Homo sapiens: one gene and its partners. The protein of the gene in region 6 purifies or fractionates together with the protein of the main gene of each other region. This does not show direct contact. Each region holds a gene or a part of one and is shown on either strand. Other genes may lie near its edges.

Evidence for each region.
Region 1: the proteins of LATS2 (region 6) and CPVL purify together in Homo sapiens (affinity purification with mass spectrometry; 2 studies listed by BioGRID and IntAct, with this or other methods). This does not show direct contact.
Region 2: the proteins of LATS2 (region 6) and LIMD1 purify together in Homo sapiens (affinity purification with mass spectrometry; 3 studies listed by BioGRID and IntAct, with this or other methods). This does not show direct contact.
Region 3: the proteins of LATS2 (region 6) and WWC1 purify together in Homo sapiens (affinity purification with western blotting; 2 studies listed by BioGRID). This does not show direct contact.
Region 4: the proteins of LATS2 (region 6) and CUL7 purify together in Homo sapiens (affinity purification with western blotting; 2 studies listed by BioGRID, with this or other methods). This does not show direct contact.
Region 5: the proteins of LATS2 (region 6) and ANAPC1 purify together in Homo sapiens (affinity purification with mass spectrometry; 3 studies listed by BioGRID and IntAct, with this or other methods). This does not show direct contact.
Region 7: the proteins of LATS2 (region 6) and ALDH18A1 purify together in Homo sapiens (affinity purification with mass spectrometry, with the first as the bait; one large-scale study listed by BioGRID). This does not show direct contact.

What each region holds. Positions count from the first base shown.
Region 1 is NC_000007.14:29,059,538-29,063,037, reverse strand, and holds part of CPVL (probable serine carboxypeptidase CPVL isoform b precursor), read left to right. Parts: intron 1-3,500. UniProt on the Homo sapiens protein: May be involved in the digestion of phagocytosed particles in the lysosome, participation in an inflammatory protease cascade, and trimming of peptides for antigen presentation.
Region 2 is NC_000003.12:45,597,751-45,601,250, reverse strand, and holds part of LIMD1 (LIM domain-containing protein 1), read right to left. Parts: intron 1-3,500. UniProt on the Homo sapiens protein: Adapter or scaffold protein which participates in the assembly of numerous protein complexes and is involved in several cellular processes such as cell fate determination, cytoskeletal organization, repression of gene transcription, cell-cell adhesion, cell differentiation, proliferation and migration.
Region 3 is NC_000005.10:168,424,145-168,427,644, reverse strand, and holds part of WWC1 (protein KIBRA), read right to left. Parts: intron 1-3,500. UniProt on the Homo sapiens protein: Regulator of the Hippo signaling pathway, also known as the Salvador-Warts-Hippo (SWH) pathway.
Region 4 is NC_000006.12:43,043,852-43,047,351, forward strand, and holds part of CUL7 (cullin-7), read right to left. Parts: intron 3,257-3,500; coding exon 3,029-3,256; intron 2,751-3,028; coding exon 2,660-2,750; intron 2,557-2,659; coding exon 2,385-2,556; intron 2,241-2,384; coding exon 2,135-2,240; intron 1,832-2,134; coding exon 1,736-1,831; intron 1,552-1,735; coding exon 1,376-1,551; intron 1,296-1,375; exon of another isoform or gene 1,035-1,295; coding exon 901-1,034; exon of another isoform or gene 1-900. UniProt on the Homo sapiens protein: Core component of the 3M and Cul7-RING(FBXW8) complexes, which mediate the ubiquitination and subsequent proteasomal degradation of target proteins. Core component of the 3M complex, a complex required to regulate microtubule dynamics and genome integrity.
Region 5 is NC_000002.12:111,818,194-111,821,693, reverse strand, and holds part of ANAPC1 (anaphase-promoting complex subunit 1), read left to right. Parts: intron 1-228; coding exon of another isoform or gene 229-240; coding exon 241-455; intron 456-2,271; coding exon of another isoform or gene 2,272-2,293; exon of another isoform or gene 2,294-2,405; intron 2,406-2,735; coding exon 2,736-2,854; intron 2,855-3,500. UniProt on the Homo sapiens protein: Component of the anaphase promoting complex/cyclosome (APC/C), a cell cycle-regulated E3 ubiquitin ligase that controls progression through mitosis and the G1 phase of the cell cycle.
Region 6 is NC_000013.11:20,992,087-20,995,586, forward strand, and holds part of LATS2 (serine/threonine-protein kinase LATS2), read right to left. Parts: intron 3,115-3,500; exon of another isoform or gene 3,003-3,114; coding exon of another isoform or gene 2,982-3,002; intron 1-2,981. UniProt on the Homo sapiens protein: Negative regulator of YAP1 in the Hippo signaling pathway that plays a pivotal role in organ size control and tumor suppression by restricting proliferation and promoting apoptosis.
Region 7 is NC_000010.11:95,615,212-95,618,711, reverse strand, and holds part of ALDH18A1 (delta-1-pyrroline-5-carboxylate synthase), read left to right. Parts: intron 1-2,097; coding exon 2,098-2,235; intron 2,236-3,500. UniProt on the Homo sapiens protein: Bifunctional enzyme that converts glutamate to glutamate 5-semialdehyde, an intermediate in the biosynthesis of proline, ornithine and arginine.

The DNA of each region.
Region 1 (3,500 bases), on a different chromosome or scaffold from region 6:
TACGCTCTCAGCTCCTCCTCTGGTCCTCCAGTGCTGTTAGCCTTTGCCCAAGGGATCGTCTCTAGGGCAACTCCGAAGGATGCCTGTACTGATGACTGGGGAGACCACCACTGAGTGATCCACTTCCTCCCTATATCCTGTTTTGAATGAACAAAAAACAGGGCAGTCGGCAGCCCATAGGATTTTTGTATGAATTAGAATAAAGGCATCCTCTCCTCAAGATACTTTATTTCGATCTTTCAGAAATTGTCCTGATATACTGCCTTAGTTAAAACCAGACTCTTTACTGCCATTTGCTGGCATGCTGAATATTCATTTCTACAATGTGTATATTAGGAATGGTGTGTCTTAGGATTGTTCAGTGCACAATCTGCAATACTATCCAGGCAGTCCCTGGCCAATGCACCCTAACTAGACTGTGGTTTAGAATATGCCAGACCTAGGAGGCCCATTTCTGGGTCCTGCTTCTAGTACAGTGTTGGACACGTAACCATTGTTGAAAATAGTTTAAGACCAATTATATGCCAAGTCTACAAACCCATTATAAACCTGCAAAACTTGATGAAATACTTACTTTCTTGGAAAGAAAGAGTCTAACTAGGTCAGGCCAGCATTTCAGCCATCCTTGTGTTTGGTTTTCTTGGGGACATGTAGTGGCCCTTAGTGCTTGCTGCTTCAAGACTTCTCAGAGGACCTCCAGAAGGCACTGCTGTTTGTCCTCTCCTCTGAGCTCTCAGAACGCGTTGTCTTTACCCCCATAGGTGTACATGGCACACTCTAACGTGCAGACTCTCAGTCTGACACCCATACCACCACCAGCCTGGAGCAGATGTCAGGAATGAATGAATGATTAGTGCTGTATCAAAAATATATCTATAAACCTGTCCATAATCCATTAGGTGCTTATTATCCACAAATTTATTAAACCAAAAAGAGGTTAGCGTTCATGTCTTAAAGATGATGTTCTGTAATGTGATGTTAAGGAATGGAACGAGTGAATTTTTTTGAGAGGAGAGCAGATAAGTTTGATATGTGTTATTTGTGCCCTTGGGAGATATATTTTCTCACTGTACACACTTTTTTTTTTTTTTTTTGAGATAGAGTTTTGCTCTTGTTGCCCAGCTGTAGTGCAATGGTGCGACTGGCTCACTGCAACCTCCACCTCCTGGGTTCAAGCAATTCTCCTGCCTCAGCCTCTCAAGTAGCTGGGATTATAGGCATGTGCCACCATGCCCAGCTAATTTTGTATTTTTAATAGAGATGAGTTTTCTCCGTGTTGGTCAGATTGGTCTCAAACTTCTGACCTCAGGTGATCCGCCCACCTCGGCCTCCCAAAGTGCTAGGATTGCAGGCATGAACCACCGCACCTGGCCTCACTGTACAAATTTAACTAGAATATGATTCCTTTCTCAGCCATGTGAGGGTAAGGTGGGACAAACAGCTTACCTGATGACATAAACTCTCCTTATGTTTTGACTGATAAAGGAGAATATATTGATTAGAGGTGATCCTGCATTTTGATATTTAAACTTCTCTGTCCCTCTTGCCCATGTATCCTAAACTTACCACTATGAATTCCAATAAAATCAAAATCCAGTATTTTCTAAACTTTTCTTTTCTTTTTTGAGACAGAGTTTCACTCTGTTGCTCAGGCTGGAATGCAGTGGCACGATCTCGGCTCACTGCAACCTCCACATCCCGGGTTCAAGTGATTCTCCTGCCTCAGCCTCCTGAGTAGCTGAGATTACAGGCACATGCCACCATGCCTGGCTAATTTTTTTTCCGTATTTTTAGTAGAGACAGGGTTTCACCATGTTGCCCAGGCTGATTTCAAACTCCTGACCTCAGGTGATCCACCCGCCTCGGCCTCCCAAAGTGCTGGGATTACAGGTGTGAGCCACCGTGTCTGGCATAAACTTTTCAACTCTGAATCGGTTGCCAGAAAAAGAAAAGAGTTTAGTGGTATAGATAAACCATATTTCCATAAAGAAACAGAACAAAATATGCCACCAAAAAGTGGCTGCTGCTAAAACAGACAGCATGTTCACTCACGCAGCTGGCAAAGCGCTTGGGATAGTGATTATCTTTGGCTTGTCTGTTAATGATGTTGAACCTCAGTGTTCAGAACGGGAATCAGAACAACCTAGGTTGGCTTAAAACGTTAGTACCATTAAAGTCATATTTATGTAAGACTCGGTACTAATTTGTCATAGAAAATAGCATGCCTGTTTCTATTCATAGGAACTAGAGGTCTTTTTCCAGTACTGGGTTCATTTTGGCCAATGTGGAGCATCTCTGATGGTTGAAGGAAGACCTTCCTGGGTTTCTGGAATTACGTTTTCATGTAGTTTCTGTATAAAAATTAGCTTCTCTGTAAACTACGTTAGTTTCTATGTAAGCTACGTGAAAACATAATCCTTTTCTTACAGTGATATACAGGAGATGCATACTCAAAAGTCATTTTCCTTTCAGTAATTTCAGATGTTTGGGTGGTAAATTGAAATATCATATTGGCAGTTTCAAAAATAACTAGAAAGAGAAACAATCTGTTGGGCTATTTGAATTCTTTATGACTGAATGAAGTCAAAACATGATCAGGACTTTTAGGAGTTAGCTGGTTAATAGAGTATGGTGGTTATGAACATGTTCTTAAGTTGCATATCTTGAGTTTGAGCTCTGGTTACACCAGTCACTGGCTATGCTCCTTTGGGAGAGGAAACTTAAACTCTCTGCGCTTTGGCTTCCTTGTCTATAAAACAGGAATAAAAACAGTATTTATGTGTGAGTTTCTGTGAGGTTTAAATGAGATTATATATGTAAACACACTTAGAAGAGTGCCTGATGGTTAGAAGGTGCTTATTTATATATATATAAGCTATTACCAAAAATGTTCAACAAATTTTGTGAAAGTCTTTAAGATCTTGCTACATTCAAAAGTTATACAAGAAACCCTGGAAAACACAAAAATAAAAAAGAATGGACAGGCTTCCAGTTTCCATTCCAGTGTGTAAGAAGCTTAGAAGTCTCCACTCCATTGTAACAACAGTAAAAAGCCAAACAAACTGAAATATAATCAAGAACTCTTTTTAGATTTGTTGAAACTGAGGTCACAGGGCAAATTGCTGCCCTCCAAAATTAGAGAGAGAGATGAATATAGGGAGTCAAAACTTAACAGGAGCAAACCTGTAAGTAGAACCCTCCATGGAAACAAATGGTGAGGAAGGGAAACCTGAACAGTAATTGGTAAATTACTAGAGGCTCCATAGGGACAAGTCTGAGAGTTTAAAACACCATGGGTGGGGAGAGGACTCAGCCAAAGGTCACTTGTAAATGACCTTTATTATGTTGAGGGACTTTTCTTGTATACCCAGACTGTTGAGTGTTTTTATCAAGAAAGGATGTTGGATTTTGTTGAATACTTTTTGTGTCAATTGAGATGATCATGTGGTTTTGTCTTTCAGTCTGTGATGTGTCACTTTGATTAACGTACCTATGTTAAA
Region 2 (3,500 bases), on a different chromosome or scaffold from region 6:
CAGGTCCCAGCAGCTCAGCTCTCCTCTACCCACTCCTGATTCCTTCTCCATCTTCCACAGGTGGGGACCCCAAAAGCACCTTTTAATAAGCCCTTGTATGGTCAACTCTGTCTCAGTCAGCTTCCCAGGAAACCCAGCCTATGACAAGTGGTTTATTTGTGGGGTTTTTTGTTTTTGTTTTTGTTTTGAGACAGGGTCTCCCTCTGTCACCCAGGCTGGAGTGCAGTGGCATGATCATATCTCACTGCAGCCTCAGCCTCCTGGGCTCAAGCAATCTTCCCACCTCAGCCTCCCAAGTAGCTGGGACTACAGGTGTGCACCACCATGCCTGGCTAATTTTTGTGTTTTTTGTAGAGATGGGGTCTCACTATGTTGCCCAGGCTGGTCTTAAACTCCTGGGCTCAAGCAATTCTCCTGCCTCAGTCTCTTGAGTCGCTGGGATCACAGGTGTGAGCCACCACACCCGGCTTGTGTCCTTTTTCCTTAGAAAGGGAGAAGAGGACCAGTGTGAGGAAGATAGGTGGATCACATGGAGGAGACGGTGGGGCACAACTAACAAAGGCACGGTGCCCTCTGCACCCCACCTCTGCAGTGTCAGCAGTGGTGCTAAAACAGAAGCCACACTGCACTAGGTGGTGTAGGCCAGGAGCAACGCCTAGAAGACCAAAAACCCAACAACATGGACAGAGAGACACAAAGAGGCAACGGGGACAGGGGGTGGGGAGGATGGCTGGAGGAGGAAGTAGGCCCAGCAGAGTAGGGAAAGAGACACGCCTCTGTAGGATCCTATTTTACTAAACCCACAAAGACCAGCCATGGAAAGTGCCAGGAGAGTTCCCGTGCCAAGTTAATCAGTAACTGGAAACTGGGCATCTTGAGACTCTAAGGGCTTACAAAGGTGGCAACAGGGATTCACAAGCTCTTCCCACAAAGTCAAATGCCCAAAGGGACACCTTCAGTTCAACCTAGGAAGGGGCCCAAGCTAACCCAAACATCTACTTTGCTTTGCTTTTGGCCTGAGTGACATCACCTCTCATGGGGAGTTGTGTCACTCTGACTCTCACTGCCAAGCGCCCTGCACCATTAAACATTCTTCTGTTTGGAAGTAGAATCTAACCATTATTTAACAAATGTAGCGTGTTGGGTAGACAAAATCTTTCAAGTAATACCAGATGTAGGGGAGGAAAAAGTATCTGTGGGAGGGAGCCCCTCAGCTGTCCAGCCTCCTCAGGCTACCGACAAGGGAGGAGTGGTCTGGAGGAGCATGTGGTCTCTTCATGGTCCCCACACAGGGCCAGGCAATGACTGCCAATCTTCAGACCGAAAGACTTCCTCCTCTGCCCCAAGGTAGGTCGCAGAAGAGCAGATGGAAGCTCTGCCACCAAAGCAGGTGTGGAGCAAACCCTCTCCTACATAGCTGGCAGCTCAGCCCTGGCATGAGCTCTGCAGGAAGCAACCAAGCCACACCTAAAGGACACAAACCACGCAGCCCCACAGTCCCACTCCTGGGAGCTCATCTTGCAGCTACGCCTGCCCCTTGTAGGTGGGTACATTCCAAAGGCCCATCAGTGAGGGCTGCTTAGGTGACCTTAGGTGACCTAGGCACATTGCACAGCAGCCACGTATAGCCAGCTGAACACATGCTGATGTAGAGCCACTGCCAAGACGCTGTGCAGTGGAACAGCATGCCACCACTGGGGCTGGCAGAAACACACACATGCTTATTACACCCAGAACACTTGACTAGACAGACCAGGGAAAGAGGCTCGATTTTCACTGTGCGTGCTTGCTTATCTGTGAAGTTTATACAAAAAATGAATAAAATACACGATTCCGTTTCTAAATGAAATTCCAGAATAGGTAAATGCCATAGGGACAGAATGCACATTGGTTGTTGCCAGGAGCTGGGAGGGGATGGGGGAAACAGGGAGCAATTGCTTTATGGGTATGGGGTTTCCTTTTGGGTTGACGAAAACATTTTGGAACTGGACGGAGGTGTTCATTGTACAACGTTGTGAATGTATTAATATTAAACACCACTGAATTGTTCACTTCAAAATGGTTAATTTTACATTATGTGAATTTCATCTCAATTAAAAAAAAACCATAAAAATAAATAAATAAAATAGGCTTCCAAATCTCTGCTTGGGAGACTGTTTGGCAATGCTGGTTAGACACATGGGCCCTGAGGCTGAACTGAACTGTCAGGTTCAAGTCCCAGCAGTACCCAATATGACCTGTGACACCGCCAGTAAGTAATTTAATCTCCCTGAGCTTCCGTTTTCTCATCAGTAAAATGGGCATAATGGCAGAACCAGCTTCCAAGGATGCTGTGACCAGTCAATTCAATAGTCAGCATCAAGTGTTCAGTACAGTGCCCAGCACAGACCAGGCCTACAGGGACTCTGTGCTTGCTGTCTGCTCTGCCAAGAACACCATTTCCCTGGGAAAACACATGGTCCAGTCTCCTGCCTGCCTTTGCTCAAATGCATCTTCTAGGTGGGACATTCCCTGATCACCCAATTTAAAACTGGAAATCTCTCTGCCACCCCCAGCCCCAGGGCTCCATTCCCTTTCTCTACCTTGATTCTCTCCCTAGTACTTGCTTATTTACTTCATTCACTCCCTGCCTCCTTCTACTACATTGTCTGCTCCAGGGAGGCAGAGGTTCCTGTCTGTCCTGTTCACTATGTATCCCCAAGACCTGGAATAGAGCATGGCCTCAAGATAGGTGCTCAATAAATTTTAATATATGCTGAATGGATGAGTAGCGTCAGCTAATACCGTTGCTCTGATGCACAGCATAAACTTGCATCTCAAGATAAAACTGCTGTTTGTGTTGTCCAATGAGCTTGAAATTTACAACTAAACAAAAGTTTAAATTAAAAGACCCACAGTATTTCCAGCTAACTATTACTCCCAAATGTGGGAATGTGCTGAGGAGAAAAGATAGTTCACAGTAAGATGGTGCCATGTGCTTTAAAAAATAAACCAGTAGGCCGGGCACAGTGGCTCACACCTGTAATCCCAGCACTTTGGGAGGCTGAGGCAGGAAGATCACTTGAGCCCAGAAGAACAGCCTGGGCAACCTAGAGAGGACCCCCCACCTCCACGTCCCCTTCCTCCCCTGCTTCCTCTTAAGTAGTCCTAGCTACTCAGGAGGCTGAGGTAGGAAGATGCCTTGAGTCCGGGAGGTCTAGGGTGCACTGCACTCCAGCCTGGGCAACAAGGCAAGACCTTGTCTCAAAATAAATAAATAAATAAACAAATAAATAAATAAAAATAAATTTAAAAAAAGTAAGCCATAAACAGCTACCCTGACCTCAGCCTGCTGAGTATGGGGTGAGAACTGGCTCCCACAAGGTTCTCATGAGAAGCAAAACACAATGCTACCATAAGCTGCACACATCCAGCAGCCCAGTGCCTCAGACCCTGGTCCCTCAAAGGACCTTGGGACACTTGCTCGTTCACGGAGAATAAGCGTAGACTGACAGCAGTAA
Region 3 (3,500 bases), on a different chromosome or scaffold from region 6:
CCCAATTTTGATACACTCTCTATGGAAGACAGACGGTTCCACCAAATTCCAACCACCTCTAAATGCTAAAGCAAAAAAAAAAAAAAAAAAAAAAAATTAAAAAAAAGTTTGCTTTAGGGTGATGGAAGGAGTCACATGTGATTTTGTGTTTTACCATCCCAGGCTCTTGAGTCGAACTGCCTGGATTCAAATCCGGCTCCACCACTCACTGCTTCATGACCTTGAGATACTGACTTAATCCTGTTAAGCCTCAGATGCCTCATTTGTAAAACTTGGATAATAATACCTACTTATAGGGCTGTTGACAGGACTCAGCGAGACATTATAAGGGAAGTCCTTAATATAGAGATTGGTGCAGGCAGGCAAAGTGCTCTGCAAAACTCATTACAACTATCCTTATTGCCACTACTGTTCCTATCACTGTAGATATCCATACTTTCAATGGCAAAAACTGCAATTACTTTTGCATCAACCTAACAGATCCATCCCTACCCACCTGGGGCAAAATAACAGCCCCTGGACCCTCAGGACAGAGAAGGGAGAGATTAAGCACCCGTTCTTCCACTGCCTATCCCTTTCCACTCCGAATTCAGCTCCTCCTCTTCCCTAACCTTAACAGGGGCCCTTGAAAGTCTCTGATCTGAGGCTCATAACTAAGCACTCAACACGTGCTGCACATTCCTTCCTTGCCCAAGTAATGATCACTCACGATGTGCCAGGCCCATTGCCATGTTCAGAACTACAAAGATGAATAAGACAATTCCTGCCCTCCTTGCAGCGGGGAAGGCCAGATCCAGATCTTACAACCTCACAGCTAACACCTCTGAGCACCTGCGGGCAGACCGGAGCAGGGCAAGGGCTCGCAGCATTGAGGGGCACAGAGTCCAGGGCATGGCAGGCCGGGGACGGCGATGGGTGACAAGGCGGGTCTGGGAGACTGCAAGTGCTGGTGATGGGGAAGCTGAGCCTGCGTCCCATGCCTGCTGAGCCCGCGGAGACCTCCTGCTTTCAGACCCACGCATCTCCACCCTCCACTAAACCACTTAAGGAGATTAATTTGTCTGCTGACTGAACAGCGGCACTAATCACATAACCTGCTTAGCGTCTAAGCTCTGCCTGGCATTGCTTGCTGCAGGGAAGGCTTCTGGAGATGGCATGAAGGAAATGCCATCCCGAGACCTGTGTGTGCCCAGCCTAATGTGCTGTCTGAGGCCCACAAGCCCCAAAGACACTGTTAGGGAGGGGAGAGGAGGGGGTCACTTCACAGGACATAGCTGGGGTCTGAGTGTCCTGACTTGGCTTAATATTGATATCAGAGGCATGCTCTTTGAGCCTTGTTAGAGGTTCCACCTGCACCCCCTCCTCTCCAGGGAACAATTTTCTGAGGCTTGCCACCTGCTATAGTAGGGCGCTTGCTTTTATTTTGAGAGCACTCAGCAAGACTCCCTTCCTGATGAGGGAAACCCAGGGATCTCTCGGCTCCTCTTCTAAGGAAACCACTGGCACTCAAAGCCTTTCGTTAACAAGGAAACCTCATTTCCCTACCATGCTCCCACTGGCCCTTGTACACACATGGATAATTCTGGGCACAGCAGCACCACTCCTGCCCATGCCTGGAGCCACAGAGCTGACATGGGTCTGGCTGCTTCTAGCTGGCCTCACCTGGAGCCAGGAGCACCAGCTTTTTGTAGACAGAACTCAGCACATGGATAACAGTGTGCGTTCTGAGCAGGTGGTCCTTGTGCCAGTCCTGGTCTTGCCATTTCACTCTGTGGGACTAACCTCAGACAAGTCTTTTAACCTCACTGTGCCTCACTTTTTTCATCTTTAAGATGGGGATAAAAGGGGCTGGACTTGGTGGTTCACGCCTGTAATCCCAGCACTTTGGGAGGCCAAGGTGGGTGGATCAACTGAGGTCAGGAGTTCGAGACCAGCCTGGCCAACATGGTGAAAGCCCGCCTCTACTAAAAATACAAAAAAAAAAAATTAGCCAGGCATGGTGATGTGCACCTGTAATTCCAGCTACTCGGGAGGCTGACGCAGGAGAATCGCTTGAACCCAGGAGGTGGAGGTTGCAGTGAGCCAGATGGTGCCACTGCACTCCAGCCTGGGTGACAGAGTGAGACTCCATCTCAAAAAAAAAAAAAAAAGGAGATTAAAAATAGCACCCACTTCCCAGAGGTGTTGTAAGGCTTAAATGAGTAAATATGCAGAGAAGTACCTAAATCCTAAACACCTGTACGCTATATATCATAGCTATGATTATTGTGAGCTATTTTTACTGTGGCCAGGAAAGCCAAGAAGGCCCAGGTGAGTTTACTGAGCATCCTACTCAGTCCTGACCTTCACACCCAGAGCCAGATGGGGTTGGTGGGGCCCCAAGCACCAGGAGTTGGCATGAATGTGCATGCTGAACTGCCTCCCAGCCTAAGGCATGACAATAAGGGGGTTGGGTTCCGGGGCCAGAAACACTCAGGTTCCTATCCCTGCTTCCTCACTTGTTGGCTGGGTGACCTAAGGCAAGTGACATCACCTCTCTGAATCTCCAATTCCTCACCAGTGAAATGGACAGAATAGAAATAACTGATTTCACCATGTATCAAGCACATTACCCAACTCATAATATATCCCCAATAAAAGTTAACTATTATGATTTATTATGTGGTTGCTGCTAAAGATAAAAAGGTTTTCTCCTAATAAATCTTAGCTGTCAATGTCAGCATCATCTTCTATTTTGAAGATTCCAACTTAAATTCCGGCCAACACCAAAATGTTCTTTCTGACCCCATGCAGAATGGGAGTCAGATCATATCATTCCTGGCTTCAAACGGTCACATGGGTCCCCAGTGCAATTAGGATAAAATCCAAACTCCTTAGCACAGCCCACCAGGCCTTTCAGGATCTGGACTCTTGCCTAGTTCTCCAGCCTCACTGGTAACCCCCTACCTCTGACTCATGGCTTCCTGGCTCCCCTTCTAGTCCCTTGCTCTGACCTCAGAGATTTTGCTCTTGCTTTTCCCAAGGCTGGCTCCATCTCACCATTCAAGACACCCTCAAATGTCATCTTCTTTCACAACCCAACCTGCCCTGGCAGTCCCACCTCTAACCAGAAAGGCTGGATCACATTCCCTGTTTTATTTTCTTTGTAGTGCTTGTTTGGTTGCAGGTTTATTCCCTGTGCCTCCATTTGAACATAAGCTTCATGAGAACAGGGACCCTGTCTGTCTTCAACACAGAATCCTTAGTGACCAACCCAGTGCCTGGCACCCAGCATATCTATAATCATGAATAGATGAATCCATGTATATCCATTAGCACAGGATGACCTGACATTTAGTTTTATGAGGTGCTAAATGTCTGTTGGAGGACAGAATCTACTACTGAAAACCCTTCACACAGGACCTCAAAAATACTGAGTTAATAAACATCCACTGAATAAATATACTTGCCATACAAAGACCCAGCACACAGAAGCAGTCAGTAAATATCGACTAGAATGA
Region 4 (3,500 bases), on a different chromosome or scaffold from region 6:
ACCCCATCTTTAAAAATAAGAAATAAGCATAAAAAAATAGAAAAGGCCAGGTGCGGTGGCTCATGCCTGTAATCCCAGCACTTTGGGAGGCTGAGGTGGGTGGATCACCTGAGGTCGGGAGTTCGAGATCAGCCTGACCAACACGGAGAAACCCCACCTCTACTAAAAATATAAAATTAGCCAGGTGTGGGTCAGGCGCGGTGGCTCATGCCTGTAATCCCAGCACTTTGGGAGACTGAGGCGGGTGGATCACCTGAGATTGGGAGTTCGAGACCAGCCTGACCAACATGGAGAAACCCCATCTCTACTAAAAATACAAAATTAGCTGGGCATGGTGGCCCATGCCTGTAATCCCAGCTATTTGGGAGGGTGAGGCAGAAGAATCACTTGAACCCTGGAGGCAGAGGTTGCAGTGAGCCGAGACTGCGCCATTGCACTCCAGTCTAGGCAACAAGAGCGAAACTCTGTCTCAAAAAAATAAAATAAAATAAAATAAAATTAGCCAGGCATGGTGGTGCATGCCTGTAATCCCAGCTACTTGGGAGGCTGAGGCAGGAGAATTGCCTGAACCTGGGAGGCAGAGGTTGCAGTGAGCCAAGATCATGCCATTGCACTCCAGCGTGGGTAACGAGCGAAAATCTGTCTCAAAAAAAAAAAAAAGAAGAATGATAAAGGGAGTGGGTAACAAGGCACCTCCAGCACTTATGGTGTCCCCTGACACTTGAGAGACATGGGAAAGGGGGCAGCCCCTGGGCTGTGAGAAGACAGCACTGGGATTACAAATGCAGGTGCCAAAAGGGCCAGGACATAATCCAGGTGGTTCTAGGGTAGAGCAAGAAGGAACTAATTAGTGGAACCAAGCCCTGAGATAGTAATGGGTCCAGATGTCAGGATGGTTACCAGGGGAGGTGATGTTCTGCACCACGGGGCTGACCAGGGCCTCCCAGCAGGTCTTGCCCAGAGCTTGGGCAGCCTCGTCATCAGGGAGGAAGCGGTCAGCAAAATTCTGCTCCTGGCGCAGAGCACCGTTGAGTCTGGGGGTGAGAATGGAGGAGGAAGGTGTCAGGGGCTTGAAGCATATGTTATCTCAGTGTCCACCCTTCCTAAGACTGCCAGCTAACCCCAGCACCCAAACCGAAGGCCCCCTGGTACTTCAGAACTGCTCTGTGCTAACTGGTATATCCCATTCCCAGCCCACTGGAGAAATCTTTTCTCTTTATCCTTTCTTCCCCTCCCACAGCTCAGAAAACTCCAGCCCCCTCCCCACGCATATTAAACCTCCATCTCACAGCTTCTATGGACCCCTGCCTGCCAGCTATTTGCAATAGCCTTACCTTTCCCACAGACACAAGCATACACGCACACTCTCACACACCTAGAACTCAGGTGCAGGAGGCTCCTGCGGTCCTCTGCCATGTCCTGGCTCCAGGCCTGTGCCCGAACCATGTAGAAGAGGCGTGTGTGACGACAGAGCTGCTCCCGGAACACTGGCCAGAACGTGGGCTTGGGGCCTAGGATCTCTAACCCCCGAATGCGCGTATCAATGCCACCCTGAAACACACACAGGACTATCTTCACTCGCTCCACACCTTGGGATGGGCTGGGGTCAGCTACGCCCTCGAACCTCACCCCTGGAGCTGCTCGAGACCCAGGCTGGTCCTCTGGCTTAAGATCTGCCTGTTTATGGGGCTCAGAGCCCCCTACCCAGGGCCACACCCCACATCCCTGGCCCCACCTGCTGGCAGCGCTTTATGCGGATCTGGATGATGGGCCAGAAGCGGGTCAGGTTCTCCAGGAGGATCACCCGGCTGGCAGAGGGCATCACATTCACCTGGCAGGGGGCAGAGAAAGCTGTCACCTCCACACATGCAGAGCCAAGTTGGCTCTAGGCTCCAGTCCCCTCACTGTTTCCCTCCCTTCCCCAGCCCTGGGATGTGTAGGGTCCTGACAAAGCTGTCCTCATGCCACCCTCATTGTTCAGGGCCTGGTGGCACAAGCACAGGGATAAAGGACACTACTTTCTGTGGGGCTCAAGACAGGTGGGAGTTAGAAAAAAGTAGGATAGGGCCAGATAGAAGCAGGAGGGCAGATCCTGTGAGGGGTGGAGTAATGGCTAATGGCCCTGGGGTCCTACCGAGTTGAGTTCCGTGTGAAGAGAGCTAGTGCTATCACCCCCGCACACCACCACTCGGGCCGGCATGTAACTCGAGTCCTCACTAGCCACAAGCAGAGTCAGTTGCCTGGGAGTGGGGAGGAAAAACCATTTGGAACTTGTAGACAGGGCCCATGGCCAAGTCCAGGGGGTGGTGCTTCCCCCAAAACAAACACAGGGGCGTCACAGGAAAGCACACGTGTGTGGCAAAGCACATGTGTGGGAGAGTTACCTGATGAGGATGCCCCGGCGCATGTGCAGGGTGATGTAGTGGGAGCCGGCGCTGCCGTTGGACTCCCAATAGGTCTTGGGGTTGTGGTCCGTCAGCTTGCTGGCCCGGTGCGGGTTGGAGGACACCTCCACCTTCTCCCAGCACTTGTCCTCCTTCACTTCCACACTGGAGCCTGGGGGCAAGTGGGAAGGGGTGGTGGTCACGGTCAGGTAGGGTGTAGAGGGGAAACAGACATAGGTGTGGGGAGGTGGAGCAACACGGCAACAGGCACGAACCCTGGCACAGGTATCTGAGGAACACATCAAAGAAAGGGATGTTGATGGGTTGGTGGGTTCGTCTGTGGTCTTCGATCTGGCCCAGCACCATCTGCAGCCAGAACATCAGAGAGAAGGGGCACAGGGGCAGAAGGAACACGGAGACACACACGGAAACACGGATGAAGGAGAGACCATGCAGCAGTGGGACTTCCTCTACAGCACCAGCAGAGCAGGCCCAGATGGGGCAGAGGGGAAGGGGAACAAATGCCCCAGGGTCACTAGAGTCACCTGCTGTTCCCAGCCATGGGAACACAGCCCTTACCCGCCACTGCTTGGGTTTCATATTCTGATGCCACTCTAAGCCCACAAGCTCCCCTTCCTCCTGACCTGGATGCAGCCTCCCAGGATGTTGGTGATGAGTTTGCGGTAGAGGTGGGCATGCTTCTCACACTTGAACACCATGTCCCGCAGCTCCTGAGCCAGCTCCAGCTTTCCCAGGTGCTTTTCCAGGGCCTTGGAGATAGCGTCTCTTGCTCCCAGCTGATTCAGCACCACGGCATAGTCCCTGCTCACTGAGGTCAGGCGGTGCAGGAAGAAAATCAGTTCCTGGAGCACCTGGGTGGGGACATAAGGGAGGAGATGAATGAAGACAGGGCGAGGGCCACAAGGGCACCTGCAGTAGCAGGTACCCACTGTGTACTCTGTGTACTGGGTGCTAGGGGTGCTACAGTGAGCAAGGCAGAGTGACGAAGTGAAAAGACAGGGATGGGGAGACACAAGAGCCAGGTGGTTAGAGAACCAAAGACAAACCAAAATGGAAAAGGGCACAAGATGCCCTGCTACTCTAGGGTTCTAGGCT
Region 5 (3,500 bases), on a different chromosome or scaffold from region 6:
CCAAAGTGCTGGGATTACAGAGTGTGAGCCACCACACCCGGCCAGCAATATAGTACTTTTTAGAAAGATTTGTAGATTAGAGTCCCAGTATACATTGCGGCTCCAACCCATGCCTGCTTTGGAAAACATATTTTCTCTGTGCTAGTATAGTCAAGACACATCAGCCTATATATCCTCATGTTCAGCAAGTGCATGTTAACTGCTTTTGAAATTATTATTACAATAAAGTCTGTTACTCAGGTGCTCTCATCAGATGTTCCTTCAGGAACAGAAACTGAGGAGGAAGATGACGGCATGAATGACATGAATCACGAGGTCATGTCATTAATATGGAGTGAAGATTTAAGGGTGCAGGATGTGCGAAGGCTTCTTCAGAGTGCGCATCCTGTCCGTGTCAACGTAGTGCAGTACCCAGAGCTCAGTGACCACGAGTTCATCGAGGAAAAGGAAAACAGGTGAAAGAAAACACGTGCACTATCTCTTGTCATGTTTCATTGTTACATTTGTGTCTTGTGTATATTTGTTTTTCCTTCAAGTTTTTAGCATTTAAAACCCTAAAGAGATTTAAAAGATACTTTCAAGTGAAAATATGCCCTGTGTTTTAAGTTTTCATCCAACTTCAACAAACCACGTGTGTTAGCAAAATGTCTTTGGCTTTTGAGGACGTAATTGTTGTATTTCATATCGTCCTCCTCTTGAAATACATATAACACTTTACTCTTTAGAAAAGGTGAATGTAAAACTATTTTGCCTGATAGTTACCTTAAGAATTTACAAACAAAGAAAACACTGGACTTGTTTTTCTGTGTCTTGATCAGGAATAGATTTTGAGGTTAGTGGGGTTTTTAGTGTAGTTTAAACTTGTATGAGTATTTTTTTTTTTTGGATATGATAGATGATACTCCAAATAAAAATAGATAAGCCTTTCTTCTGCCACTCCCCTGCACAGGATACATCCCTTGATACATTATAAGACTCACATGCCTATGACATTCCAGAGCTATTCTCTTGGGACACTTCTGTTTTAAAATTCTCTCCTGTTCTTTTATCTGCTTGTCTCTATCATCTATCATTCATCTGCCACTGTTTTCTAGTTCTCTTTACTTTTTTTATGGTACTGTTTTGAGGGGAACCATCACCCACACTTAGCCACAGGCTGCTGAAGATCTGAATTAGTTGTGATTTCCCTATTAACTGTTTCCTCTCCACATGTACCCAGTTATTAGTCACCTGTGAATAAAAAGATGGAGTGACAGAAGTTGAGTTTAGAGCATAGGATTTATGAGCATGGCCTCTAGAGCCAGGCATGGCCATGCTGTGCTGGGTGACTTTGGTTAAATTACTTTACCTCTTGTTGCCTCAGTTGCTTCATTTGTAAAAGTAGGCATACTTCATGGGATGGTGCTGTGTATCAAGTGAATTATTTTTACATAGCACTTAGAATACTGCTCAATACATAGTAAAGCTCAGTGCAGTCAGCCATTATTAGTAGTAGAGTTCATTGATTCTAAGATGCAAGTTTTTTCACTTTTTAATATCTCTGAAATCAGTTGTGTATTTCAGTGAACAGGTGTCATAGTTTAATTGGCAGTGCTTTTTCTTTCTTAGTTTCTCATGAAATAATGATACATCTTATCAGTGGCATCTTATATTCAGGGGATATAATATTGTTCTCATTATAATTTTGTTACTTGCGCAAAGTTGAAGTGAATTATGTGTAAGATTTCCTCTAAAAAAATTCTATGGGTTGCAACAGCCTCTTGGCTTTGAATTTTCCTGATCCCAAATTAATGTTGCGGTTGTGTTCCCAGAGAATCTTTAAGACAGCAAAATTTTTCTTTCCAGTTAGCTAGAAAAGCAGTTATGTGTGTCCAGTTAAGGAGGGAGTATGCTTATGAATAGCTTTGTCTGCAGAGAAAATGTTTGTCAGTTGTCAGCCTCTGAAGGGATATTTCTGTGTCTTCAGATATAGCTTGTATAGGCGTTTCTTAGTTATAAATGCCCTACTTCCAAAATTTCTGTTAGTTTTTTTTAAGTGGCTATATGGAATGTTAAGCTATTTTAACATAGGAAGAAGTTGAAGAGTGGTGTATTAATTTCACAGTAGAGCCAACAGAAACCATTTTAACCTTGAACATACCTGATACATAATGGTATTAGTCCTATAAATCTAGCCATCATGTAAGTGAAACCAATCTGTATTTCCCTTGGAGACACCATGAAATCCATTCACCTCTAACACAAGGACCTTGTTTCTTTTCTTGTGTACAGGCCACAGAAATGGTACTTCTGAGGCTGTATTGGCAAAAGGGATGGGAGGAGGATCCCACATGTACTGAGGACAGCTAGACTGAAATTAACACAGTGATAAAAACCCCAAAAGTACTGTATTTTCCTTTGAGAAGGTTAGCATCCATCGGAGTGGAATTTTAAATTTCTTTTTTTTTTTGAATGCCTAGAGAGAGTCGGCTGGGTTTATAGGCCAGGTGGTTTTCATTCAATGTAAATATGAAACAAAACAGAGGAAATATGTCTCTCCCTAAGAGTGTAATAGGAACAAGAATATTAAAATGAAAATAATCATGTTTGGGTAGTTCACTCACATCTGTGTATGAATTTACTTTGAGACAACTTCATCTTATACAGTACACCTTCTTTTGAAATACTTACAGATGATATTTCAATTGCTCTTTGCTTTAAACATTTTCATATGTTGGTTTTTACTTTAATTACAGATTGCTCCAATTGTGTCAGCGAACTATGGCTCTTCCTGTAGGACGAGGAATGTTTACCTTGTTTTCGTACCATCCTGTTCCAACAGAGCCATTGCCTATTCCTAAATTGAATCTGACTGGTATGTTAAATTCTGGGCTCAATGAGAAAGGAAAATGATTAAGTACATGCATTAAGTGTAGTTCTTTAAATTAGTTAAAACAAAAGAAATGCTCCCTCTATCCCCAGTGATTTAAAATTTTCCTAATAGCTGCTGTAGTGGTTATCAAAGCTCAAATGCCATGTGAAACTAAACTTTGAGAGAAGCAGAATATAGTTCATTACTCATTTTTGCTTTTTAATGAGGTGATTTTAAGATCTAAAAAGTCACTTGGAGAAGTTCAGAAAGATATTATTGATAACGATGAGACTTGAATTTTAAATAATCTTAAGTTTAATATGTAAAAATATTTAGTTTTAAAATGTCTTACGTCATAGTTTAAACAGATGATCATTGTATAAATCAAGAAATGTACTAAGCAAAAAGAGAAACAATGGTCGCTTGCAGTACTCCCACTCTTCTGCATCACTCCTTTTAACATTTTAGTATATATGTTTACTAAGTTTATTTCCACATATTTATAATTTTATATTTGTTTAATTATCAGAAAATTTATATCTATTTTAGATTTTTTTAAAAATTTACAGTGAACATCCTTTTATATCTAGCAAATAAATGTATGTGTTTATAATTATGTGTATGTATTGTATACACGTGTTTTTAATCA
Region 6 (3,500 bases):
GAGAAAGCCTCCTTCCACCCGAAAGATGAGGTGGTGGCATGGCTAGCTGTTCCAGACTTTGGGCAGGTGGAGAGCCCTGGGAGAGAAAAGGCATTCCTGGCAGATGGGACAGCCAGAGCAGAAGCCTGGGGAAAGATGGGCCCATGGCAGCAGCACGCAAGGGTAGGTGGAGATGGGGGGATGGACCCACAGATGGGGGCCAGGCTCTCCAGGGTTTTGCTCCTGTCTGCAGGCATTCGAGGAAGCTTTCAAACTGGGACATACGGCATCAGCAGGTCAGGCTGGGGGCGGCTGTGGGTGCAGAGCTGGAGGCACTCAGATGGGGGAGACAGAATAGGCAGGAGGGTACCGAAGAGATGCAGCCCAGTGGCGCGGGGCGGTGAGGCTCTGATGAAGGCGCCCCCTTCACCTTTCAGGACAGCTCCGCAGAGCTGTAGGCAAACAGGGAGGGTGAGCAGAGAGAAAAGAACACCGTTGAGGCTGGCTGTGGGACAAGGGCAAAAACAGGCAAAGGCCACAAAAAGGGCTTCAGCAGAAGAAGAAAGGCTGAGCACTCTGAAGGTCAACGAGGAGGGCAACCAGGCAGGAGGAAACTGAAAATGTAGAACGGGGAGCTCCGGAAAGGAGTCCACAGTTACCCAGACAGCAGAGAAGAAAGGGGTGGAGATGGCTGGGCGTGGTGGCTCACGCCTGTAATCCCAGCACTTTGGGAGGCCGAGGCAGGTGGATCAAGAGGTCAAGAGATCGAGACCATCCTGGCCAACATGGTGAAATCCCGTCTCTGCTAAAAATACAAAAATTAGCTGGGTATGGTGGTGTGTGCCTGTAGTTCCAGCTACTCAGGAGGCTGAGGCAGGTGAATTGCTTGAAACCTGGGAGGTGGAGGCTGCAGTGAGCCGAGATCACGCCACTGCACTCCAGCCTGGCGACAAAGTGTGACTCCATCTCCAAAAAAAAAAAAAAAAAAAAAAAAAATGGGGGGGTGGAGATACAGAAAGACCCCGGACAGTGGGGGAGGCCGTGCAGGGCTGCTCTGCAGCAGGAAGCCTGGCCATGGTCACAGAGCCACTCCGCAGAGAGAGATGCAGCACTGAGTGTCCCCCACCTCTGGATAGGGCATTGTGGTGCCCATGATCTGAATCGCACTCAGCTGTGTGTCTGTGGTTCCCTTAGGACAAGAAGAACCTGGCAGGGCCTGAATCCATGTTACTCATGGTTGCTTCTGCCCCCTTAACACAGTGCCTAGAACAAATTAAGCACTTATTGTCCATATATGATGGTCTAATACTGAATCAAGCTTTCCAGTCCTGGCCATATGCCAGCAGAATGGCAGCACAAAAAACACAGGCTGTAAACTGTGTTCTTAGCAATGCAGGCGTGGGCATGGCAAGATGGCAGGGACAGGCAAGGGGCTGCAGAGGAGCACGAGGTGGAAGGCCTGGGGAGGTGCCGCCACATGGGCAGGCCATGTTGCCTGCCCATGTGGGACATGGGACATGAAGTGACAGATTGGAAAATGGTAATAAGAACAGACCTGTTTGTTAAAGTGGCGCCTGGACTACCAGAAAGGGCAAGTGTTTACAACCTGGAAGAGTTGCAGAGAGAAGGCAGCGGTGGTTCAGAAGGGAAGTGCTTCCTGACCCCACCTGGGACAGGAGATAAGACTCCCACCACCGCCTACTTCGGGAGCTATGCGATGAGATCACGTCTACGAAGACTCAACAGCTTGGAGGAAGACACGATATAAGACCACATCTTTGTGGGATCACCCTGGAGCTTTTGGCGCCCATTAAAAAAATGTGCCAATTGGGGCTGACTCTAACCACAAGCCTTTCCATCAGCACTAACCGTTCAATTGCTTCATCTGAAACGTGACCAACGCTCTGTCTCCTGCAGGGTGAATCACCAGCCTGTGCTCATTAACCCAGTACCTGTTGACTGCCAAGGAAGGGACAGCTCCAGGACAGACTAGGTCAATGTGGATGTTCTCAAATTCCCTCCCTGTTTATGGAGCACCCACTACTCAAGATGTGTATGTTTATTGTGCATCAAATCTAGGAACTCAGAAAAATCAGCAAGGAGACCACAAGTGAAGACTCATGTTCAGAAGGGAGTTTCAAGTCCTAAAAGTGAACCGTACTCATGAGCCGGCTTGTTTATAAATAAACCCTTCAAATAACCCATGTCCTTTGAGGCTTGCCCTTGTTATCTGTCCATCAACCCTTCTTTAGCAAGTAAGTACTTCCTATCTGTACATTAAATCTCAGAAGATGCTACTGTACATATACATAGAGCTATGTTTTAAACACTGAAGGAAATGGGAATCCACTTCTAAATCCATCAGAAATACATGGCCTCTGGGCACAAAGTACATGCAGAGTCACAGAGTGAAGACAAGTGCACAGTCGGGGGAATGGCAAGAGGTCGGAGCCAGGATGCGGGAGGAGTGTGTCAGAGAGATGCAGCTGAAGCCTGGCCGAGGAGCTTGGCCACTCACCTTCCTTTCTTAAGCATGTATGGAGACCAAGCTGGATGTGGTGGCTCATGCCTATAATCCCAACACTTTGGGAGACTGAGGCAGGAAGACTGCTTGAGCCCGGGAGTTTGAGGCCAGACTGGGCAACACAGTGAGACCCCGTCTCTACACAAAAATAGCTGGGTGTTGATGGCGCATGCCTGTAATCCCAGCTACTGAAGAGGTTGAGGCAGGAGGATTGCTTGAGTCCAGGAAGTAGGGCAGGCTGGGCAACAAAGTAAGAATGTGTCTCAAAAAAAAAAAAATAGAATAAAATATTTTTTAAAAGAAGAATGTATAAAGATCATCATTTAAGGGTCCTTATCTAGAATCGTAGGTGGCTATTCCAAAAGATGGCAGGATGGCGCAGTGGTACAGGGCGCAGATAGGGAGGCCACACACCTAGGTTCACCCCTCCCCTCTGCTGCTTAGCAGCTGTGTAACTTTCAGCAAATCATTTCCTTACTTTGAGTGCCCGTTTCCTCATCTGGGAAATAAGGCTAATAGGTTGCTCTAGGGATGAAAGGAGATGTCATGCTTGGGCATCAGCATCACTTAAGGGTTAGCTGTTACAGTTCACAAAGGTATCTTATGTGTTTCTGGGAAAAAAAAACATAAAAACTGTAATTGTAGATTTTATGCATGTTTGATATTTAATGGCTCTAATGTTTTACTGTGTATTCTTCTTACAATAATTATACAAAGAAATGTAATGAGTTCTTTTCCCCAAGCCTCAATAGACACCTCCAGTCTCTTCCAGCTTACCTCAGGCTGCTGTGTAAACATTATCCACGTCTATGCATGCCAAGATGTGGAAAGGGTGAGCAGCCCTGCCCCAAAGCAAGAGTTCAGCTGCAAGCCAACTGAAGGCGAGGACAGTTCAGGTATGTGTTCTGGTGTCTAGCGTGTAGAAAGAGATCAGCAGATATCTGTTCAATGAATGATTGAGTGAGTGACTGAGTTAGACTGTGACATAGGATAGATG
Region 7 (3,500 bases), on a different chromosome or scaffold from region 6:
GGACCCCTTTATTGTCAGTATCACTGATGGCTTCCTATAAGTACATCTGTTAGGAAAAAGAACTTTCAGTAGTTAATGGAAATTAGAATGCAACTGTCGGCCAGGCACAGTGGCTGACACCTGTAATCCCAGCACTTTGGGAGGCCCAGGCAGGTGAATCACGAGGTCAAGAGATTGAGACCATCCTGGCCAACATGGTGAAACCTTGTCTCTACTAAAAAATACAAAATTAGTTGGCATGGTGGGACCTGTAGTCCCAGCTACTCAGGAGGCTGAGACAGGGGAATCACTTGAACCCAGGAGGCAGAGGTTGCAGTGAGTCGAGATCGTGCCACTGCATTCCAGCCTTGCAACAGGGCGAGATACCATCTCAAAAAAGAGAAAAGAATGCAACCCTCTTTAAGCAAGTTGACATATCACAGCCTCTGGTTGAGAAAGCATGCGTTAAAGTTCTTGCCAAGCAGCCATGCTGGGAAATACAAGGTGTCATTAGAGAGTGGCCCCACTTTATTACCCTAAACTGCCTCCCAGAATTCTGGGAGCATTTCCCCCACTGGACTGTCCTATAGGATACCAGCTCTTCCTTTGCACTAGCCCCAAAGTCTCAAAGGGAAATTCTACTGTAAAAACAAAAAACTAGCACCTCTTTACTATAAGACATAGTTGACTGTGGAATCTGGAATGCTCTGTGAAGGGTACTCTCTGACATCCCCTAAAACCAGTGTGTTCACCAAGGGACTCCCATACCACTGAGGCCTATCCTCAGTCCCTGGCTGATGCTGGCACACTACCTCTCTGGCCACATACCTGTCTTGCAGAAATGCCCCAGTGATGACTGCCAGACTCACCTCTGCTAGTAGAAATGGGCCTAAGTCTCTCTGTGGACTGTATCCGTGAAATTTCTTTGCTACCACTCATCCATACCAGCTGATACCTCACAAGGAGCTGATACCTCATTAGCTAACTACAGCTAAGGCTCCTCATCTGGACTCAGCCCTGGATGGTTTCACAGAATCCATGAATCCTAAAAATTGTGTGCAATATTCTGTGTGTTTATGTCTGGAGAAAGTTTACTTAACTTTTGTAAGAGGTAGGATGATCAGGTCAGTGTCACTCACTCTTTGCTCTAACAAGGCAACTAGCCCTCCTCCTGGATGGTTTACGTTTTCCTCCCCAGACAGGCATGTGGGAAAAAGACTCTGTTCTCAGCAGTCTCTACCACAGCTGCCCAGGGGCTGGCAGGAGCTCTGGTCTTCTCCAGGTTCTTAGCACCAAGCACTTAGAGCTCTCAGAACAATTCCAAGGCCAGAGTAGGATGTGGCCAGAGGAGCTGCCCAGCCTCAGCCTGATCAGATGAAGCAAGTGCTTCCTTACAGAGGTGGCTGAAGACCCTGTTCTCCACGGTGGGGGGTGCCATGTGGCCCTGGCCACTTAACTCAGTTCTCTTTGCTTTATTTGTTTGTTTGCGACGGAGTCTCACTCTGTTGCCCAGGCTGGAGTGAAGTGGTGCAATCTCGGCTGACTGCAGCCTCCGCCTCCCAGGCTCAAGAAAGTCTCTTGCCTCAGCCTCCTGGGTAGCTGGGACTACAGGCACCTGCCACCATGCCCGGCTAATTTTTGTATTTATAGTAGAGATGGGGTTTCACCATGTTGGTCAGGCTGGTATCGAACTCCTGACCTCAGGTGATCCACCCACCTCAGCCTCCCAAATTGCTGAGATTACAGGCGTGAGCCACCATACCTGGCCAACTCAGTTCTCTTTGCTAATGGTGCTAAGGAAGCCATATAGTTTAGTTGCTAAAATCCAGTGGTTTGTTCTGGAGTCAAACCACCTCAGTCTGGCTCCCATCCCTGTTATTTATAAGCTGTGTGACTTCGGGGAGTCATCAGCCTCTCTGGGCTTCAGTGCCCTTATCTGTAAAGTAGGGGATAAAACAGGCACTTAATTCACTGCAGTGTTGTGAAGATGAAACAGCATAGGCCTTCTAAAATGATGAACACAGTGCTTAGCACAGAAGGAGTGCTTGTGAATGCTAACATCACTGTTGCTATTACTGTTTGTCTCCTTTGATCCACTGCTCTCCCTTTGATCTGCAGGTGGCAGCTTTGGCTATCGCAAGTGGCAATGGCTTGTTACTCAAAGGAGGGAAGGAGGCTGCACACAGCAACCGGATTCTCCACCTCCTGACCCAGGAGGCTCTCTCAATCCATGGAGTCAAGGAGGCCGTGCAACTGGTAGGTCCCTGGGAATGCACCAAGTCAGGCCCAGAGGGGCCAGATCAGGTGTTTGGGAATTTAAAGCAAAACTTAGGCCACACAGAGCCAAGACACTACTACAAGCAGACTTGACACTCCAGCAGGCCTGTGAGCCTTCAGACTTTAGGCCATTCTGCAGAGCCAGATGGGTCCTCAGTGGCTTAGGAAGGCCCCTCCCTTACAGCTGCGTCTTGGCACTATTTATTTACAAGAATGTCAATTAGACCTTCATTCTTTGGGTCACAAGGCAGCAGGAGTACCAGAACTAGAGTGTGAGGCCTAGGTTCCTGTCATTGGCAGAGTGATCTAGGGTAAGTCAGATGAGAAACTTTACAAAAGTTTGTCATAAACTGTCATGCGGTGTGTTGAGTATGAGATCATGCTGTTATCACTATTATTATTAAGGTCATCACTTTAACTGACCATTTCTCATTCTCCTCAACTGTCAAATGAAGTTTGATAATAATAGCTACTACTTGTTGAGTACCTACTATGTGCAAGGCTCATTTTATCCGTTAACTCATTTGATCGTCACAGCAGTCCCATAAGGAAAATATCATTAATTATTAGACTCATTTTCTACATTGGGAAAAAACAGATTCAGAGGTAAAGTAATTCCCCAAGAGTCACATGGTGTGTGATAGAGTTTAGATTTGGACCTAGGCTGACTCCAGATCCTTTTTTTTCTTTGGCTCATTTGCTCCAACATTCCAGGATTCTGTTGGCTACTGGGAGGATGTCTACAAACCTGCTCATTACACACTCAGTGACCAGAATCTGGTTTTTTTCTTATGCCCACATAGTGGTTGGAAAGAGCGCAGATTTTAGGGATTCAAATCCCAGCCCCACCACTTCCTAGCTTACACAGGTGCCCTCCCTCCTTTTCTTCCTATTGATGTGTAACATACGTACAGTAAAGTATACAGATCCTGTGAACCACTCTGCGACTGTTCACACACACACATGTATAACCACCAGCCGTATCAAGATACAGAACAGTCCAACATCCTGGAGGGCCCCCTTGTGCCCTTCCCAGTCAATATGTAGCCCCCTTCCCCACAAACTACTTTTTTGACTTCTGTCACATTAAATTACTTTTGCCTTTTTTTTTTTTTTTGAGACATGGTCTTGCTCTGTTGCCCAGACTGGAATTCAGTGGCACAATCTTGGCTCTCGGCTCACTGCAGCCTCAGCCTCCTAGGCTCAAGCAGTCCACCCACCTCAGCTTTCCTAGTAGTTGGGAC